4 linked regions of the Homo sapiens genome follow. The protein of the gene in region 1 interacts with the protein of each later gene in a pairwise test. Each region holds a gene or a part of one and is shown on either strand. Other genes may lie near its edges.

Evidence for each region. The genes of interacting proteins can lie anywhere in the genome.
Region 2: the proteins of MLH3 (region 1) and FBP1 interact in a two-hybrid assay, tested with the Homo sapiens proteins (one large-scale study listed by BioGRID and IntAct).
Region 3: the proteins of MLH3 (region 1) and TSTD2 interact in a two-hybrid assay, tested with the Homo sapiens proteins (one large-scale study listed by BioGRID and IntAct).
Region 4: the proteins of MLH3 (region 1) and HSD17B3 interact in a two-hybrid assay, tested with the Homo sapiens proteins (one large-scale study listed by BioGRID and IntAct).

The regions. Positions count from the first base shown.
Region 1 is NC_000014.9:75,048,131-75,053,654, forward strand, and holds the start of MLH3 (DNA mismatch repair protein Mlh3), read right to left. Parts: upstream 3,338-5,524; 5' UTR 3,250-3,337; intron 1,589-3,249; 5' UTR 1,526-1,588; coding exon 1-1,525. Other genes in the region: ACYP1 (acylphosphatase-1 isoform c precursor), read right to left, coding at 5,314-5,524. UniProt on the Homo sapiens protein: Probably involved in the repair of mismatches in DNA.
Region 2 is NC_000009.12:94,618,161-94,622,997, forward strand, and holds part of FBP1 (fructose-1,6-bisphosphatase 1), read right to left. Parts: intron 2,332-4,837; coding exon 2,169-2,331; intron 1-2,168. UniProt on the Homo sapiens protein: Catalyzes the hydrolysis of fructose 1,6-bisphosphate to fructose 6-phosphate in the presence of divalent cations, acting as a rate-limiting enzyme in gluconeogenesis. Plays a role in regulating glucose sensing and insulin secretion of pancreatic beta-cells.
Region 3 is NC_000009.12:97,612,011-97,616,847, forward strand, and holds part of TSTD2 (thiosulfate sulfurtransferase/rhodanese-like domain-containing protein 2), read right to left. Parts: intron 1-4,837.
Region 4 is NC_000009.12:96,238,819-96,243,655, reverse strand, and holds part of HSD17B3 (17-beta-hydroxysteroid dehydrogenase type 3), read left to right. Parts: intron 1-2,748; coding exon 2,749-2,898; intron 2,899-4,837. UniProt on the Homo sapiens protein: Catalyzes the conversion of 17-oxosteroids to 17beta-hydroxysteroids. Favors the reduction of androstenedione to testosterone. Testosterone is the key androgen driving male development and function. Uses NADPH while the two other EDH17B enzymes use NADH.

The sequences.
Region 1 (5,524 bases):
AAAACATTTCTAAACTGGTTCCACACGGATTTTCTAAAGAGCTATGTTCCAGGAAAGATTTTTTATGTTTCTCATTTTCTCCAGCTTCTGATGCTACAATTGTCTCTTGTTCTAACATCTTTGATTCTGAGCAAGAGCTGTCTTTGTTTTGTAAAGATGGCTCTGTCATTTTGCTATGGCCTGGACCACCTGATTCATAAATGTACAAAAATGCATCATTTGTATTTTTTCTGGTAGCTTCTGAATCCCTAGAACTCTGTGTGTTTACGTTTTCTGCAGTAGTTTTTCTTTTCACAGCTTTTGACTGCAAATTAAACATCTCATAGGAATCTAAAATATTATTACATGCTTCCTGGAAATTGCTCCTCTCATCGGAAGTCACACGCTTCTGAAGAGTAGCATCAAATAAACTAAAACCATTATCTTCACTAAATTCCTTAATATCCTCACCTGATAATTCCACAAATAATTTTTCTTGCTTTAAAAACATTTTCACTCCTTCCTGAATGCAAAACAAGAGAGTGTCCCAGTTCTGAAATTCAATCAGAGTTTTGGCTGGCTCCATGCACACATCATACTCACAGAATTGGCACTGCACATTAATTACATATATGCCATAGAGTTCTGGGGTAGACCGGTGCCGAAGACTTGAATTCATTTGCCTACTGGTGGGACCATTCTTTGGCTTGCATATAATACTTTCTTTCCTTAATAAAAAGTCAATGAGTTTATGTAGCTTTGTCCTTAAAACTAGTCTTTTGTTCACAAACAAAAACTGCATATTCTTGTTGTAATGTGCTTCAGAGCTGATATAGCCACTAAGCTCAAACTCTTTATATTTAAAACTTATTTCTCTTAGCTTTTGGGACTTTCCCAATCCATAAATTTGACAAAATCGGGAACATACGTCTTTGGTTTTAGGGAGCTGAAGAACCATGGAACCAGAAACATCATTTCTCAAAGAGAAAGAAATGGAAGGGTGCATGAGTGAGAGAGCTTCTATTCTCTGCCTAACCTTCTCAAACTCCAGTCTAGGGTCCATGCATTTCCTCCTTACAGGAAGCTGGTAAAATAGGTTATACACTGTTACAGTAGTCCCAGCGCTTGCTCTAGTCACATCAGCTTCACAAGCTTTCAGGGCTTTTCCACTCTGAAACAGTTTCACAAAAGTTTTCATTGTCCTGTTTTTCTTGGACGAAATTTCCACAGCACTGGCCATGTCAGCAATATTTGCCAAGGCCTCTCCTCGGAAACCATAAAACCTTGGATTCTCCAAGTCCTGTACCGAGTGGCATTTACTGGTGAAATAACGATTTCCCACTTTCTCTACATCATCACTCCCCATCCCAAATCCATTGTCTATCACTTGAACTTGGAAGGTTTCCATATTCACCCTGACAGCCACACATTTTGCTTCAGCATCAATACTGTTGAGGGCAAGTTCCTCAACACATTGGCCCAAGGAGCTTATGGCCAAACCAGAACGCAATTTGGCTTGTACTTCAACTGACAAGCACTTGATCATGGTAGGTAGAAAGATGGTGAGAATGCCAGGCACTGGTTTCCTTCTCTGACTGGAAATAATTGCCTATTGGAGAAAAAAACCACACACGCACATAATCAAAGCTTTAGCATTACACAGCATTATGAAGAAATAGCACTTGAGGTAAATGAAATCACTCTTATTAAACCAAATTGTGAAACAAAGCAAAACAAAGTTATACCGCTGATCTCTAGGCACAGCTCATGCTTGGTGCAATGGATTAACATCCAAAAAAAATTCATAATTTCATAATTTTCAATGCTCCTTTCTAAATCCCACATGTCCTAAAGTGAAATCATAATTACACTTGAAGTTGACCAGTAAACACAGTATTCGAAATTCTAACCACTTCACCAAAAACAGATGCCTAAATTAAATACAGCTAAGGAACATTAGCTAGAAATTATTCATGACAAAAATGTCCAAGCTAGTTTCATAACATTTATACATTACACAATAACCATGACTTTTAGAAAAATACTTATAATGAATTGCTAAGACATTGTAATAAGGTGAAGCAATAGGAAGAAATTTTAAGAATCAAATTGTATCAAAGAGAGATTGGGGGCATTAAGAGGTTATTATTATTATGGTTAAGTATAGTCACCTCAGGGAAAGAGGCTGGGAATGGGAAAAGATAAAGCAGGAAAATTCCTTTTCATATAAACCTTTCTTTGCCATTTGATTGTTAAATCCTGTTCATGTATTACTCTGATGTTTTTAGAAAGTCGTTATTATTCTTTTTTGAAACAGTCTCACTCTGTCACCCAGGCTGGAGTGCAATGACACAATCTCGGCTCACTGCAGCCTGCACCTCCCGGGCTCAAGCAATCCTCCAGCCTTAGCCTCCCGAGTAGCTGGGATTACAGGCGCTCGCCACCATGCCTGGCTAATTTTTGTCTCTTATGTAGAGATGGGGTTTCACCATGTTAACCAGCCTGGTCTCGAACTCCTGAACTCAAGTGATCCTCCCGCCTTGGCCTCCCAAAGTGCTGGGATTACAGGTGTGAACCACCGCGCCCGGCCAGAAGGTCATTATTAATATTCTTTTGGTCTTTACAGATGGGCATAAACTACCTTGGTAATAATAATGATGGCATGGGGCTGCCTGAACTTGATTTTAAGTTTTCCTGCAAGTGAAAACACAAAAACAAAAAACAAAACAAAAAAAACCAAACCCTAAGATTCCAGTGCCATTAAAGGTCTCCCCTTCTTCTCCATCAGTGAGAGCCACGTGGGTGGGCCCCTGCAGGCGGTGGGGCCGGTTTTCCAAACTCGGGACAAATCAGGGCTCTTAACTGCAGAATTTCTGCTGCTTTCTAAGCTAATGCACTAAGCAGCCGGCAGCAACTGACGGGTAAACGTTTAACAAGTATTCCGATTAATGTAAACCCAATGATTTCCTGATGACGCCTCCCAGCGCCTGGGACTGACGGGACGCACGGGCCTGGATCCAGGGCACGGGGGCCTGGGAGGGCCGCGCGGGCCGAGTCCGGGGCAGCGCTGCCTTCCCGCCAGGCCCAGCCCCTCCCTGGCCAGCCCCGTCCTTGTCCCCAAACTGGGCCCGCCCGGCCGCCAGGCCGCCGGGCCTCCGGGGCCCTCGCGCATCCGGCTCCGAAAGCTGCGCGCAGCCATCATCAGGGCCCTTCTGGTGTTAGAAGAGACCCCGGCATCATCTTTTCGTCGCGTGCTTCCCCCAGAGTCACCTGGAGTCCCGCTTAACAAATTCTCCGACACCAACCGCCTCGGACGCCGACGCGCGCACCTTGGATCTTGAGGCTCGTGCGTGCCCACGAGCATGCGCTTCGGAGGGGGCGCGCCAGGCCGCGAGACACCAGTGCGCATGCGCACCAGTTGTTCCAGCCAAGGATCCGCATCCCAGGGTTCAGTGAACCGGTACCTACAGTCTCAATCCTTATTCCCTTTTGGCATGGTGTTAAAGACTATGTCGTAGCTTTTACTTTTGTTTTTATTTTTTTTTCCCGTGTTTTCCCTTTCCTTTTTTTTCTCATTTTCACCTTTGCTCTTAACTACCGTTTAATTCAATATATATTTTATGTGTTTACTTATTGTCTTCTCTCCCTAGAATGTAAGCTATGTGAAGGTAAGGAGTTTATATATTTTGTTTACTGCTGTATCCCAGTTACCAAGAACAGTGCCTGGCCTATGGTAGGCACCGAATGAATGAATAATTCCAGAGCCTGCCATCTTAGAATTATGGCATTTGGAGCTGGAAAAGGCTGAGAAACTGTCTAACTCAACTCTTTTTTTTTTTTTTTTTTTTTTTGAGACGGAGTTTAGCTCTTGTTGCCCAGGCTGGAATTCAGTGGTGCGATCTCAGCTTACTGCAACCTCCGCCTCCAGGGTTCAAGTGATTCTCCTGCCTCAGCCTCCCGAGTAGCTAGGATTACAGGCATGCGCCACCACACTCGGCTAATTTTGTATTTTTAGTAGAGACGGGGGTTTCTCCATGTTGGTCAGGCTGGTCTCGAACTCCGGACCTCAGGTGATCTGCCCGCCTCGGCCTCCCAAAGTGTTGGGATTACAGGCGTGAGCCACCGCACCCGGCCTTTGCTCAACTCTTAATTTACAGATGACAACACCAAGACTCTCTTCACTGACTTGAATCTCCCCAGTGCCACCACAGCTTTTAGTTATAAAAATAACTAAAGGAGAGCAGAACTCTGAGAATGCTGTGAGAATAAAGTGTTTTGGAATTGTTAACCAGTCCTTAGTTTTTGCTTTCTATCTCATTTTCATTGAGAATTTAAAGTGGAATTTATAACGAATTTGTCAGACCTGGTAAGCATTTGATATATGCTAGTTTAGTGACTAACCAAACCCAACCAACCAGTCTTCTAGGGCTGATTAAGCAAAATCCTGATAACTGTTTATGATTATTACTATACCTAGGGCTGCCATAACAAAATACCTCAGACTGAGTAGCTTAAGCAGCAGAAGTCTATTTCCTCTCAGTTCTAGAGACTGGAAGTCTGAGATCAAGGTGTTGGCAGCAACGATTTCTCCTGAGGCCTCTCTCCTTGGCTTGTAGATGGCCATTTTCACAGGGTCTTTGATTTTTGCACACGTGTCTATAGCCAATATGTTCTCTTATAAGAACACCAGTCAGATTGGATTAGGGCCCACCCTCACAGCCTCATTTAATCTTAATCACCTCTTTAAAGGCCCTATGTCCAAATACAGTCACTTTCTGAGGTACTGGGGACTGAGACTTTAACATATGAATTTGGTGGGACACAGTTCAGCCCATAACATAACTTTATGTGAATTCCTTACCCAGAGAAAAGAAACAACAGCAGAAGTAATTCATCCAAACATAAGGTGAACAGAGCTAACAAATTGAACTTGTGGTATTTGTTCTTATTAGGCATGGAATTTCTTGAAGAACATTTCATAGAAACCATTTAAAGAAATGACTCAGACTTTTTTTCTTTCAGACCTCTTTAAATTACCTCAAAATCCTCTTCCTACAAATGTTTACTGAATAAAGACCTCTCATTTCGCCCAAAAGGAAGTTCACTGAAGATTTTTTAAAAGTACTCTAAGCAGAAGGTTCTAACGTTTTTATTGATTAGATTTGTGTACAGTGGTAATCCTTCCATCATACAGGTAATATATAATAACATTCAAAAATCTGACATTAAAATAACTTATTGACTAATGCTAATATTAACACACAATAGTTCTATCTCTATTAATAATAAAAACCAAACCACTGAGTTTATCTTAGAAAACTTAAATTCAGGCCATTATTTTACAATTTGGAAGTCTGAGTAATCCAACTTCAAGATGACTTTTTCATTGTTGAAGTTTGCTTTGTCGATGTGTGATTTAGGACTTCCTCTTGTTTCAAGCCATTCCTGCATATGACGCACCTTGGAGATGGGACCTTGCAATTGTCCTTGCACTGTGCCCCGGTCAGTGTTCTGGACCCAGCCTACCAATCCCAGCTTTTTACCC
Region 2 (4,837 bases), on another chromosome or scaffold:
TTCCTGGCAGCCAAAGGAAAAAGAAGGTTAGTCACTCATTTTCCTTTATTTGTAAGGAAAAAAATAATTCCTTAGGTGAAGCAGAGACTTTGCTAGGGTTGAGATCTATAAGAAACTTCTCATGGAGGTCTTACAGATGCCCCTTGAGGTTGGGGTGCATAGAGTTTTCAAAAATATCCTGGCTGGGCACGGTGGCTCATGCCTAATCCTAGCACTTTGGGAGGCTAAGACAGGAGGATTGCTTGAGCCCAGGAGTTTGAGACCAGCCTGGGCAGCATAGAGAGACTCCTTCTGTAAAAAAAAAAAAAAAAAAAAAAAAAAAAAAAAAAATTCAATTAGCTGGGCATGATGCTGCACATCTGTAGTCCCAGCTACTCAGGAGGCTGAGACAGGAGGTATCACTTGAGCCAGGAGTTCGAGGCTGCAGTGAGCCATGACTGTGCACTCCAGTCTGGGTGACAGAATGAGGCCCTGTCTCTAAAAACAAAACTAAACAAAACAAATTTCTAGCGTAATTCCCAAAGTAGATAACTTTCAGTGGTAGTGGGAATACCGCAGATTCCTGTTTTGAGTGGGATTTTCAGTGGTGTGCAGGAGCTGGCTGGTATCGGCTCTCAGGAGCTAACGGTGCACATCTCTTCCCAACTCTGCCTTCAGTGATATCACATTGGTAGCTTAAAATCAACGATGGGAGAGTATTCACACCATTGACAGAGGCAAGTGGACATATCAGAGACTTGTTTGTTTGCTTTGAGACCCAGTTTACCAGCACATCACTGGGAGTTTTCCATCTCCAAATTAGCCACTTTACAATGTCGTTTTTAAATGTCTGTAGCAGATTAACATGATTCCCTGCCCTCTTGCTCTTCACAGACCACCCTCACTAATGCAGGAGGAACTGGAAACTGGAACACAGGAAGCTGCCTATCATGAAGGCCCATGATAGACAAGAGAAGTCCGGCGTGAGTGATGGAGAATATTAAACAACAAATCTAAGCCATACGCCTAAAGCTGCCAAAGACCTTGAAAGGCCCAGCTGAGAAAAACATGAACTTCAAGTCTGGCATGTACGGCTATTTTAGGAATGATGAAAAACAACTTCATCAGATGTGGCTCCTGCCCTCTTAATAGGGTGAGGACAGGCAGCCTCTTCATCTTCTCATTGTTTTTTCCTAATTCTACTCCTTCATGTTCCCAGTTCCTCTCAAACTGGGAAAGATAGTAAGCCCATATAACTGCACTTCTAATCTCAGAAGTTTTTTTTTCTAATTACAATTGTTGTTTTATAAAAGCTGGGAATACTCTTTCATTTAACAATCTTTTTCAACAGTCATTTGTTGTTGAGGCCCTCCAATGTGCCAGGCATTGCACTAGACACTGGGACACAGAGACAAATAAGATTCATTTTCTGCTCTCAAAAAGCAGAGATAACGCCAGGTGTGGTGGCTCACACCTGTAATCCCAGCACTTTGGGAGGCCAAGGTGGGCGGGTCACTTGAGGTCAGGAGTTCAAGGCCAGCCTGGCCAACATGGTGAAACCTCATCTCCACTAAAAATACAAAAATTAGCCAGGTGTGGTGGCGGGAACCTGTAATCCCAGCTACTCAGGAGGCTGAGGCAGGAGAATCGCTTGAACCCAGGAGGCGGAGGTTGCAGTGAGCCAAGATCACACCACTGTACACCAGACTGGGCAACAAGAGCAAAACACTGTCTCAAAAAAAAAAAAAAAAAAAAAAAAAAAAGAAGCAGAGACAGACCAATAGGGACTCCAATGCGTGCATCAGGGATGGAAGTTTCAAGCAGTCTAGGTCAACAGGAGGGTCAGTGTGAAGGTCAGGAATTTGGTGGATAGGGATGTAGTACAAGAGGTGACCAACAGAAGCCAGGGTTTGAAGAGCCTTAAACATGGCAATAAAAAGTTAGAAATGGAGATGAGTTTGTGGGAGTCCACTGGGGAGAAGGCGGCGTGAGCCACAACACTCATCTGCACAGTGGCTCAGGGAGGATTCGAGAGATGGCAGCAGTGAGGTGGAAGCTATGAAAAGACCACAGCAGGGATCTAGAGGGACTCCCAGAAACCCAGCTCAGCTGAACAAGTGGAGTCAATTATGAAGCTGGGAAGAAGACCGGCTACATTAAAACCCTCAATGGTGGAAGTACAGACCCACCCTTTTCTCCGGTTCCACTATGATGGCGTGTTTATCTTCTTCTGACACGAGAACACACGTGGCAAAGGATGACTTTAACATGTTCATAACCAGGTCGTTGGAGAGGACGTCCAGCTTCTTAACTTGATCACCTGTCACGTTGGTAGAACCAGCAATGCCATAGCTACAGGGAACAAAAGCCACAAAAAATAAGCCATGACCACCAGAACATGTAGATGAGTCCATAAACCCACCAAAAGTGAGTGTTCGGTAAGATTTAGAAGAAAGAGTTCATGTCCTTTGCAGGGACATGGATGAAGCTGGAATCCATCATTCTCAGCAAACTAATACAGGAACAGAAAACCAAACACCACATGTTCTCACTCATAAATGGGAGTTGAACAATGAGAACACATAGACACAGGGAGGGGAACATCACACACTGGGGCCTCTCAGGGAGCTGGGGACTAGGGGAGGGAGAGCATTAGGAGAAATACCTAATGTAGATGACAGATTGATGGGTGCAGCAAACCACCATGGCATGTTTATACCTATGTAACAAACCTACGCATTCTGCATGTGTATCCCAGAACTTAAAGTATAATAATAATTTTTTTAAAAAAGGGCCGGGCGTGGTGGCTCACGCCTGTAATCCCAGCACTTTGGGAGGCTGAGGCGGGTGGATCATGAGGTCAGGGGATCGAGACCATCCTGGCTAACATGGTGAAACCCCGTCTCTATTAAAAAATACAAAAAAGTAGCCGGGTGTGGTGGTGGGTGCCTGTAGTCCCAGCTACTTGGGAGGCTGAGGCAGGAGAATGGCGTGAACCCAGGAGGCGGAGCTTGCAGTGAGCCGAGATCGTGCCACTGCATGCCAGCCTGGGCGACAGAGCGAGACTCCGTCTCAAAAAAAAAAAAAAAAAAAAAAAATACAAAAAATTAGCCGGGTGTGGTGGCGGGCGCCTGTAGTCCCAGCTATTCAGGATGCTGAGGCAGGAGAATGGCGTGAACCCGGGAGGTGGAGCTTGCAGTGAGCCGAGATCGCACCACTGCACTCCAGCCTGGGCGACAGAGCAAGATTCCGTCTAAAAATATATATATTTTTAGAAGAAAGGAAGGAGGACATCAGCTTGGGAGAACAAGGCAGGAAGGTCTGGACAGACCCTAGAGAGGAGGAGATACTATCATCTGCCTCTTCACCTCGAACCTGTCATGGTGCCCTGCACACTTTTGTGGTTAAATCAGTGTTTCTTAACTTTGTTTTCATTATGATTCCCCTAGGGAGCTTTTTAGAACATTTTTTCCTCAACCATACTCCCCCATGAAATATTTTTAATACTACAGATATAGTAGATATCTGTTTATTGCAGTATGTGTCTCAGTGCTTTTTACATAAAAAGTTTGCGGGTGTTTTTGGTTTTGCCCAGAAAGAACCAGTGTTGGCCCCCAAACACACGGGTTAAACGAATCAATAGAGAGACCCAGCAAGCAAGGAAGCCTGGGTCGGGGGTAGCCTGAGTTGCGAGCCAAGCCAAGGGGTTTATGGCTTTATAACTAAAAAGACCCTAAAAGAAACAAAGCATCAACCGGCCCCTCTGCCTCATTTCATAGAGGAGAAAACTCAGACCCAAGACTCCTGTGGACTTCTCCACACAGGCAGAGGGTAGAAGTGAGACGCTGCCTATGACTCCCAGGCAGAGGGTGGAGGCGAGACCCTGCCTATGACTCCCAGGCCAGGGCTCTCTTGGTGACACCCTGGGCCCCTGGCAGGAGTCCTAGGGCATGGAAGTTGCAGGGATCCTGGAGTTTTCACTATTTTTAAGCAACCTGCAAGTCAGTAATTATAGAATTCCCAGAATCCAGTGGCTTGTCTAAACGCAGCCTAGCTTCTTAGACTTACAGAAGCGGCAGGTTGTCATAGCCTGGGGTTGCCCTGAACACAGAAAGGAGGGAGACGTCTCACAGGAAGGATGCACAGAGCAAGGCGAGAGCCTTGATGTGGGAAGGGGAAAAGATGGGTCTTTGAAGACACCAGCAAGCCTCTGAAAGTGGGTGGTAAGGGCACACCCGCGCCCTTGGCCATGATGGCGATGTGCGCTCGCCTGGGAACTGACGGTCCCTGATCCAGTGGCCGTGACTGCTTCAGCTCCTGCAAGTGCATTTGCCCAAAACATAACTCGCTGTGACTGGCTGGGCAAAACTGAGCCCCTCCTAGAAACCATCCAAACCCACATGCCTGGTCCGGCCTGACTATCTCAGGAGCTAGCTCCGGCTGTCTTCTCGGGCCCGCCTGTCAGCGTCTTTCAGCCACTCTTGGCATCATTCCCTTTCCAGCCTGCAAAGCACATCTCATCCCACCAGCCCTCCTCCTGCTGCTTCTCTTTTCACCCATCACTCCTATTTCATGAGTAAAAGACCAAGATGTCTATCGAGCTTTGAGCTCCACCCCATGTCCCTGGGCTTTCGATCCTATTTCCACATGATCTTTTTCTGACCCCAATTGTGAGGCTGGGGCTTGTGCAGGAAGAAGGCAGCCAAAATCTGGGAGGCCAGAGGGACTTGGCAGGGCCCACCAGCTCAAATGCAGCTCCCTCAGTGACCCCACTAGCAGCAGTGCTCTCTCCTTTCCAGCCTGAGAGTTGCACTGTCAAAGTCACTTTATGATTATTTTTATTTTTATTTTTATTTTT
Region 3 (4,837 bases), on another chromosome or scaffold:
TTCCACCCTCCACCCTCCAAAAGGCCCCAGTGTCTGTTGTTCCCCTCTATGTGTCCACGTTCTCATAATTTAGCTCCCACTTATAAGTGAAAATATGTAGTATTTGGTTTTCTCTTCCTGCGTTAGTTTGCTAAGGATAATGGCTCCCAGCTCCATCCATGTCCCTGCAAAAGACATGATCTTGTTCTTTTTTATAGCTGCATAGTATTCCCACATTTTCTTTATCCAGTTTATCACTGATGGGCATTAGGTTGATTCCATGTCTTTGCTACTGTGAACAGTGCTGCAATGAACATATGCATACATGTGTCTTTATAACAGAACAATTTATATTCTTTTGGGTACATACCCAGTAATGGGATTGCTGGGTCGAATGATAGTTCTGTCTTTAGGTCTTTGAGGAATTACCACATTGTCTTCCACAACGGTTGAGCTAATTTACACTCCCACCTATAGTGTATAAGTATTCCTTTTTCTCTACAACCTCACCAGCATCTGTTATTTTTTGACTTTTTAATAACAGCCATTCTGACAGGTGTGAGATGGATACCTGTTTGTTTTTTAAGACAGAGTCTTGCTCTGTTGCCCAGGCTGGAGTGCAATAGCACAATCTCGGCTCACTGCAGCCTCCACCTCCTGGGTTCAAGCGATTCTCCTACCTCAGCCTCCTGAGTAGCTGGGATTACAGGCATGCGCCACCAAGCCCAGCTAATGTTCGTATTTTTAGTAGAGACGGGGTTTCGCCATGTTGGCCAGGCTGGTCTCCAACTCCTGGCCTCAAGTGATCTACCCGCCTTGGCCTCCCAAAGTGCTGGGATTACAGGCACAAGCCACCGTGCCCAGCTGGATACTTGTATTTTTCTAAAATGGCATAGCCTTCAGTTCAGATGAGGTATTCTGTTTCATGCATGCTGAACAAAAGAATGTGAATAAAACTCCTGGAAAGCCCCATTTGCTATGGAGCTACAATAGTCCAACAGCCAAAGAAGTGAATTCTGAGCTTAATCTAAATCCAGGTAGCTTAACAGAGTCCTCCACAGAGGTCAGCAGATCTAGGCTCAAGATTAAGCTCTGCCACTCACTTGCATGTAGCTGTGAGAAAGTTAATTGACTTCTCTGAATCTTAATTTCTTTATATGAATAAAAAGGGAACTAAAGAGCACCAGAAATGAAAAGAACTGCTGAGGAGATACTACCAAAATCCTAAAGCACAGAGTACATCTGAGGGCTGAGGGTATACATGAGCATGTATCTCTGCATGGTGTTTGGAGGACAGCCTACCACTGCAAACCATCCACTGGAATACAAGTTCCACATGGGTGTGTGTCTGTTTTGCTCACCAGCATATCCCCTAGAACAGTGCCTGCCACATAGTAGGCACTCAATACGATTTGTTGAATAAATGAATATGCATCCATATCTGGGGCTCTTTGGCATCTCAAGTCCCATATTCTCTTTGAAATGCTCCCCTGGTTAGGGGACATTAGAGCCTGGGGTAAAGCCCCAGCCTTAAGAGGCAGTGTTCTGGGGGCCCTGCAGAGTTGGTTGTTTTCGTACTACAAAATCCTGTGGATGAGTTTAAAGATGGATCATCTTTAAAGGGAACTGAGCTCTCTAAAGAAAAGTGCTAGCAAGGGCAGCACATGTGGCATCATGGCACTGTCTGGAAAAAGAGATGATTTAATTCAAGGTCCTATATTGTTCTAGTCATATAACACTGATATATACCAGTACTTCATAATTTGAAAATTTTTAATGGCTGTCCTTTTTTAGGGTCCAGAGAAGACACATCAGTTGATGCCTCACTTGATCAATTCTTTTTTTTTTTTTTTTTTTGAGACAGAGTCTCGCTGTGTCGCCCAGACTGCAGTGCAGTGGTGCAATCTCGGCTCACTGCAAGCTCCGCCTCCCAGGTTCACACCATTCTCCTGCCTCGGCCTCCCAAGTAGCTGGGACTACAGGTGCCCGCCACCACGCCCGGCTAATTTTTCATATTTTTAGTAGAGACGGGGTTTCACCGTGTTAGCCAGGATGGTCTCAATCTCCTGACCTTGTGACCTGCCTGCCTCGGCCTTCCAAAGTGCTGGGATTACAGGCATGAACCATCGCACCCAGCCCTACCTGATCAACTCTTTAGGGTATGGATATAAAACAAGATTCATGGCACAAGCCAATGCCAACTCATTGGAAGTGGTATATAATTTTAAACTTTGAAAGAACATAAAAGACACAAACATATGCATGTGTGTAATATGATCAGAGAATATTTTAGGAAAATAAAAACCATCGATAACCCTACATGCCTAGATAATCCTTACTAACATTTTGGTATACACAACCTTCCATGTTTATACATGCACTTCTGGTTTTGTCATGAACATGCATTCTATATTCTCCAAATATCTACTGAGGGTCTACTACATGCTAAGCTCTGTTCCAGCACTGAGAATACATCAATTAAGACCAAAATTCCTGTCCTCATGAAGCTTATAAATGAAGATTATACTTTCAGATAGTAATAAATTCTTTGAAAAGCAGAAAGGGATAGAACGTGACAAGATCTGGAGAGGACTACTTCAGACTGCAGCTCTAAGGAGACAATATGTGAGCCGAGATCTGAAGTGGGGTATGCGCCATGTGAAGGTGCAGGGAAGAGCACTCTAGAGAGGAAGGAAACAGCAAATGTCAATACCCTGAGCTGGTAAATGACCCTGGCAGGTTCTAGAAAATTAAGAAGCTTGGAATCACACCTCTACGTATAGTACTGTAAAATGTTTTCCAGAGTTCCATGACAAAGATTCCGGGTCACATCCAGACTCCTTGAGAAACAGTGCTGCAGTCTAGTGAAGCCAGTTCTGGGCATGGGAGAGGGAAGCAGGAAGCCTGTGACATCTCTGCTACACAGGCTACTGTCCCCACTACCAACTTATAGTGGACTACATAGAAAAATAGAGCCCAATCAGTGTAAGAGTCAGAAAACCCACTCCAAAAGAGTTTCTGACTACAGCAGGTAGGATGAAGTATGTATGTCTAAGTACCTCTCTTGGGGTAGGCTAGTAGATTCTTTTCTAATTTATTTTAATCTCAGAACCCAAAGAGAAGACAAGCACATCTGCTCCCTATATAGCTAGGGCAGAGCATGCTCTAAACTCGTGCACTAGACTTTGAACCCCCAGGATTCTCTAACAGAAATCCTTCAAAGCTCCTTAGTGAGGAAGGCCTTGTAAGAAACTGAGAAGAACAATCATTAGCATTTATTCAGCACTTGCTATGAGACAGAAGCATTACATTATAATCCTGAAAGGCAGATATCATAATCCCCGTTTTACAGAAAAGGAAACAAAAGCTCAGAGAAATCAAGTAACTTGCCCAGTGGTATAGCTGATAGCTGGTAAATCTGGGATTCAAAACCAGATCTTACTAGCTCCCAATCTTATAACTTTTCCTTTCCAAAGCCTTCAATGTATCCCCTCAAATTTTTTGAGGCAATAAAGAATACACAGCAATAGAGTAGAGGCTTTTTTCCCATAATTCTACAACTGTCAGGTTCTTCTCTTTCCCTACTTAGGCACTGATATTTTGCCAAATCTCCAAACACAAAACTCTCATTAAACTGGGCATGTATCCTTGACACCTAGGAATTTATATCCAAGATCTAGGCAAGTGCTGCCACCTTGTGGGTAAGATCCCTCATTGCTAATTTAGCACTTGGGTTGGGCCAAGAAAAATGATCTGCCTCTAAACCAAGAGGCTGTTTTCAAACCTTGTACATTCAGGTTTACTGTGAGAGTATCCATCTTTCAGGGTGTGGAAGTTTTCTGAATAGGAATGGTGATGAAAGTATTAAATATTATTTATTTATTTACACCAGGAATTGTGCTAGGAATTAGGGATACAGTGCTTGAAAAAAATATAGCTTTTCCCCTTTAGGAGCTTACAGACTATGGGAGGTCACAGATATTAAAATAAAAGTTACAAATGGACAAATGTTATGAAAAACAATTACAAGATGCCATGAGAGAGTGCACTGGGAAAAATGAATTTAGATTGACAGGAAAGGTCTCTTTGAGGAAGTGTCATGAAAATTGAAAACTAAGCTTGAGTAAAAATCAGACTGGAGCAGCAGAGTGGGTGTAGGAGAGTTCCTTGAAGATAGTTTGCTTGTAAGAAGGCCCAAGGAGAGAAAAGAACTCGGTGGGTTCCAAAAAACTGAAAGACCATGTTGCTGGAGTATAATGAGCAAAGAACAGTATCAGACGAGAGGAAAAGGTAAGAAGGGGCCAACTCACGCAGGAACCTAAGGGCATTTTTAAGGCACTGGATTTCCTCCATATGCACCAGAAGTGGCAGCCACTGAAAGAGTTTGAGGAGGGAGTGATGTGATTTGATTCACCTTTTAGGATCATTATGGCTGTGTGGAGAATGGATTAAGTGGCAGGCAGGGATGGCAAGCTGAAGAGTAATTTGAAAGCTACTGAATGGACTGGGTAAGAGAGGGTGGTGGTTTGGTCTAAAGTGGTGAGTGTGGAAGAGAGAAGGGAACGGAATTAAGGAATATTTGAAGAGGTGGAAATGGCAGGCCTTGGTGATGAACTGAATGAGGTAAATGAAGTCATTATCTGTTGGAAAACATGGATGTGAAAAATATCACTGATCAATTCAGACCTGGGTCATATGTTGGGAAAGATGAAACAAGGCAGCACAGTGTCATAACCAGAGGGGGTTTTGGGGGAAACTAGTTCACTTCCTTTCGATTTAAATTTTGAAAATCATATAAAATACATAGACATATGCATGTGTATAATGTAATCAGAGAATATTTTAGGAAAATAAAAAC
Region 4 (4,837 bases), on another chromosome or scaffold:
TAGATAGTTTCTGGAACGTAGAATAAACAGAGTTTTTGTTTTGTTTTGTTATTGTTGTGTGGGAAGAAGTTTTACGATATACTATTAGAAATGGAGAAAGGCACACTCAAAATTATATCTTGGAAATTATTGCTGCGCACACTGATTTTCAATTAAAATATCCAGTGAGAGTATTTTAGGCAGCTGTTCCTATAAACTAACCAGCTACAGGGTAAAGCTTATTAAGTAGGCAGATATGAGTTAATGGTAGGAATTTGGCCAATAATATCATCTCTGAGCCATAGTGAGTGGTTGTAACAGCCTTGCCACCGGGTCACAGTCCCTTTCTCTGCCATGCAGAAGCCGTCTGACCCATCAGAGGGTCCTGCTTCCATGCTGGGGTCTCCGTGCTCCCACTCCCAGCTGAAGCTGGAGTTTCGCTTTTGTAATGCTGCAACTCTGTCTGGGCTAAGTTTGCTGCAGTAAAAAAATAACCCCTAAAATCTCAGTGGCTTAAAACAACAAAGTCCTATTTTGCATTCACGTGACACATCCACTGTGGGTTCACAGAAGACATTGGCTCACTGTGCTGACACAGGGCCCCAGGCTGACGGAGCAGCCGACATGCCAGAGGAAAAGGAGTGGGAAGTTCTAGTGGGTCCTGCTTTGACAATGAAATGCTCTGGCCCAGAGATGACACATGTCACCTCTGTTCATAAATCACTGGCCAACTCTGCTTGCATGGTCCTACACAGCCACAGGGGGCCAGGAAGTGCAATTCTATTATGCATGTGTCTGGAAGAAGAAGGAACCAAGAATCCTTGGTGATTTCTAAACATGAATGATCATCGCAGCCACCTGCTTCCTAGCCATGTGACCCTCAGCAGCATCTTGTCTTGATCCTTGGGGCACAGCTGCCGAGGTAGTGGGTACTATGGAGCAGGAGGGTCAGGAGGAGATGTGGGTGGGGAAATGGAGTCCCTTGTCCCTTCCCTGATGCAGAGAACTTGGAGGTGCTCTTCTAGCAAGGAGGAGAAAGTGAAAAGACTGTGATCTTTCAAAAACCAATTGGCCTCTCCGAACACACACTCAATAAATACTCGCTGAATGAATAAATACTCGCTGAATGCATGAAGAAGTATGTACTGTGGAGTTGGGTTTGAATTTCATCACAGCTCTACCACTTATCATCTGAGTGATCCTGGTCAGCTTGTTTAAACTCTGTGAGCCTCAGTTTTCCCATCCATAAAAAGGGGCTTATAATGCCTGCTTATATCTCTGGGTTATAGTAAAGATCTAACGAAGAAATAAGTACATATGTTTAAACAATATTTATTGAGCCCCTATTTTGTACATACAGGTGTTTTGTCAACCCAAAATCACTTAAGAATGAAAATACTTATCATTACTTCCCTATCTGGAAACTGTGGTGGAGAAAGCACACTCCTTATATTTCTCAAAGAGTAACACTTTGAGATCCTTGGAAGAAAAGTGTTATACAAATTAATCATGCTTTAATTTCCATAGGAACCTGCTCATTTGGATTAATTGATTCATAATTGGGTTCAATTATGAAATAATGTAATTCCAAATGTGATGTGAAGAAAAATAAAACCTAGAAAACTTTTGTGGATTTTTTTTTTTACTTTTTCTTTTCTTTCTTTTCTTTCTCTTTCTTTCTTTCTTTCTTTCTTTCTTTCTTTCTTTCTTTCTTTTTCTGTTCTTTTCTTTTTTTTTTTTTGACAGGGTTTCACTCTGATGTAGCCTAGGCTGGAGTGTAGTGGCACGATCTTGGCTCACTGTAACCTCTGCCTTCCAGGTTCAGTGGATCCTCCTGCCTCAGCCTCCTAAGTAGCTAGGACTACAGGCATGTGCCACCGTGCCTGACTAATTTTTCTATTTTTAATGGAGATGAGGTTTTGCCATGTTGCTCAGGCTGGTCTCGCACTCCTGGGCTCAAGCAATCGTCCTGCCTTGGCCTCCCAACATGCTGGGATTACAGGCATGAGTCACCATGCCAGCCTTTTTTCTTTCTAAAGATGCCAAACCCTTTGTTCTGGGAATAAGGTAATAAAACCCCATTATGAATCCCCATGCCAGGCCACAATGTGGTTAGCCCACAGGTGGAAACATGGTGTTGGGTTTTTAGGGCACAATGTGTGATTGTTTTTCTTACCACAACAGGAAGAGGTTATGAGGTATGTGCTACTCTTGGTTCCTAACTGAAGTGTGAAAGTGGGAATCCAGAGTGCTTTCAGTTGCTCCAACTTTGGTTATATGTATTAGAAACAAACTTCTGAGATAGAGTTGCCAGATTAAATACAGGACCTCCAGTTAAATTTGAATTTCAGATGCCTATGAATAGTTTTCAGTATAAGTATGTCCCATGCAATACTTGGGATACGATTGTGCTGAAGTGGTTTTCATTGTTTGTCTGAACTTCAAATTTAACTGGACATCCTGTATTTTTATTTGCTGTCTTGCAACTTGGTTCTGAGAGAGAGACCCGAGTTCTTCCCATTCACACTGTGTGTTGGGCAGGGCATTTGGGCCACTTGATGTTGGCTAGGTAGGTTCTCATCTTGAGAAACCAAATTTCTGATTCCCAGCTCTGTGCCGGTACTGTGCCTTTTTCCACTCAAGATCTTAAAACTTTGCCTAGGAAGAGAAGGGTCGGGAAATGGTGGGATGGGGGCTTGAGTGTTAATTTCTGAGTCTTCTTCCTGGGGTGGATTGCTTCTGTGCCATGGTCTTTGTTTCCCGTTGTAGGTGCTGACCCCATATGCTGTCTCGACTGCAATGACAAAGTATCTAAATACAAATGTGATAACCAAGACTGCTGATGAGTTTGTCAAAGAGTCATTGAATTATGTCACAATTGGAGGTGAAACCTGTGGCTGCCTTGCCCATGAAATCTTGGTAATTGATAACTTCTCCTTTTCTTGAAGCCAGGGAGGGAGGACACGCAGGTGGCCCTGGCAGGGCTGGGCTAGCTCTTCCTTGCTGCTGGAGCACTCATTGATGCGTTAATATAGCCAGGTACAAGGACTATGTGGCGAGGTGGAGAGAAGCCGGAGCCTGGGAGCTCAGCCACTAGATAACCCCGAAGTTGGCAAGTCTCATTCTTGGCTGCCTCCCTCCTCCCCTCAGAAAGTAAGGTGGCTCCCAGGAGCTGTTGGGCAGGGAAGACCAAGATATATGGCGCTTCCACGTGGGGGCTGCTGTCTTCTCTTGACCCTCTATTCCAGTCAATGTTTAGCTATCAGCCCTCCAGGCAAAAAAACAAAACAAGCACAAACCACTTTGATGTGTAGCATTTGACTTCCACGGTATAAATACTTCCAGCATGGCTGAGTTTAAGCCACGGACATGACGCTGTGTGCATGAATTGAGGAGTGCATGGTGCACAGAGGGCTCTTTTTTTAGTTTTCATTTTTATTTTACTTTAAGTTCCAGGATGCATGTGCAAAACGTGCAGGTTTGTTACATAGGTATACATGTGCCATGGTGGTTTGCTGCACCTATCAACCCGTCATCTAGGTTTTAAGCCCTGCTTGCACTAGGTATTTGTCCTAATGCTCTCTCTCCCCTTGCCCCCCACCCCCCGACAGGCCCCGGTGTGTGATGTTCCCCTCCCTGTGTCCATGTGTTCTCATTGTTCAACTCCCACTTATGAGTGAGAACATGTGGTGTTTGGTTTTCTGTGTCTGTGTTAGTTTGCTGAGAATGATCGCAGTGGGCTCTTATGAGTGAGTGCAAGCCAGCTCCAGCATGCCACAGATCCAGCATATGGCAGAAGAGGCTCTTACCACTCCTGGACTGCTTTTAAAAACAAACACAAACATGAAACAAAGGTAGACTTGAGTATTGCTCACTAATACTGAAGCAAACATAACATTGGCATAGCTCTGACTCCAGTCCCACCAAAGAAAGTTAGATGGGGTTTCCTCACTTACCCATCATCTGCCAATTTCCTCCTCTGTCTCATTGGCTTTTCTACTGCAGGAATTGGATCTCTCTCTGTCTTTCATGGATGGTAGAAGGATTCATGGCTCCATGCGCTAAAGTCTACCAAAGCATTCCTTTATCTGCTGGGACTTAAAGACTCTGGCAAGAGATATTGAACTTTCTCAATTACTTGCTATTTTTATGTAGAACCTCAACAATGTGCATAATCACCAATGTAACTCACACTACAAAGCAGACATGCAGAGAGGATATAAAGTCTTTATTTTTTCTGTTGCTGATCTGGTCTTTTTCCAGATCACCACTTGCTGCAGGAAAATTCATCGAATGTCCAATGAGTCTAAACTGAGTTTGATCTAGTCATCTCAACTGGCCATTTAGGAAATGTACTCTTAGTCTGTTATTTAGGGAGAAATGTTCATCCTTCCCTGGAGGCTCCCTTCTTCCTGCCCCTCTCACTAGGTGGCGCTGGGAGAGGATGCCCTGTGGTCCATGACGGTCCTTCCATGTGTGTGGGCTGGTGTCCTGGGTGGCTGTTCACCTTGCTGAAGTTTATGTCTGTCAAGGATGAGGGAGATGAACCTTTCTGTCCTTTTGACTTGGCCAGTGGATACCCTGATAAGGTCTCCCCAGCTACTGAGGGCAGCAGACTGCTGTACTCTGCCACATCCCCCTCCAGCTACAGGCCCAAGGTCCATCTGCAGCTTTGATCCACATAGACCTCTGGCTGCTATCTCTACATCAGCACCAACGTGGACCTGAAGGAAGCTGGAAAAACCAAATCTCAGCACCTGTCTCACCATGCTGAGATAATTTCCTGTGGTTGGACTGCAGAGGAGTGGGGGCCATGGCCCCTTCTTTGCCCTCAGTGCCACCCTTACTCATGAATCAC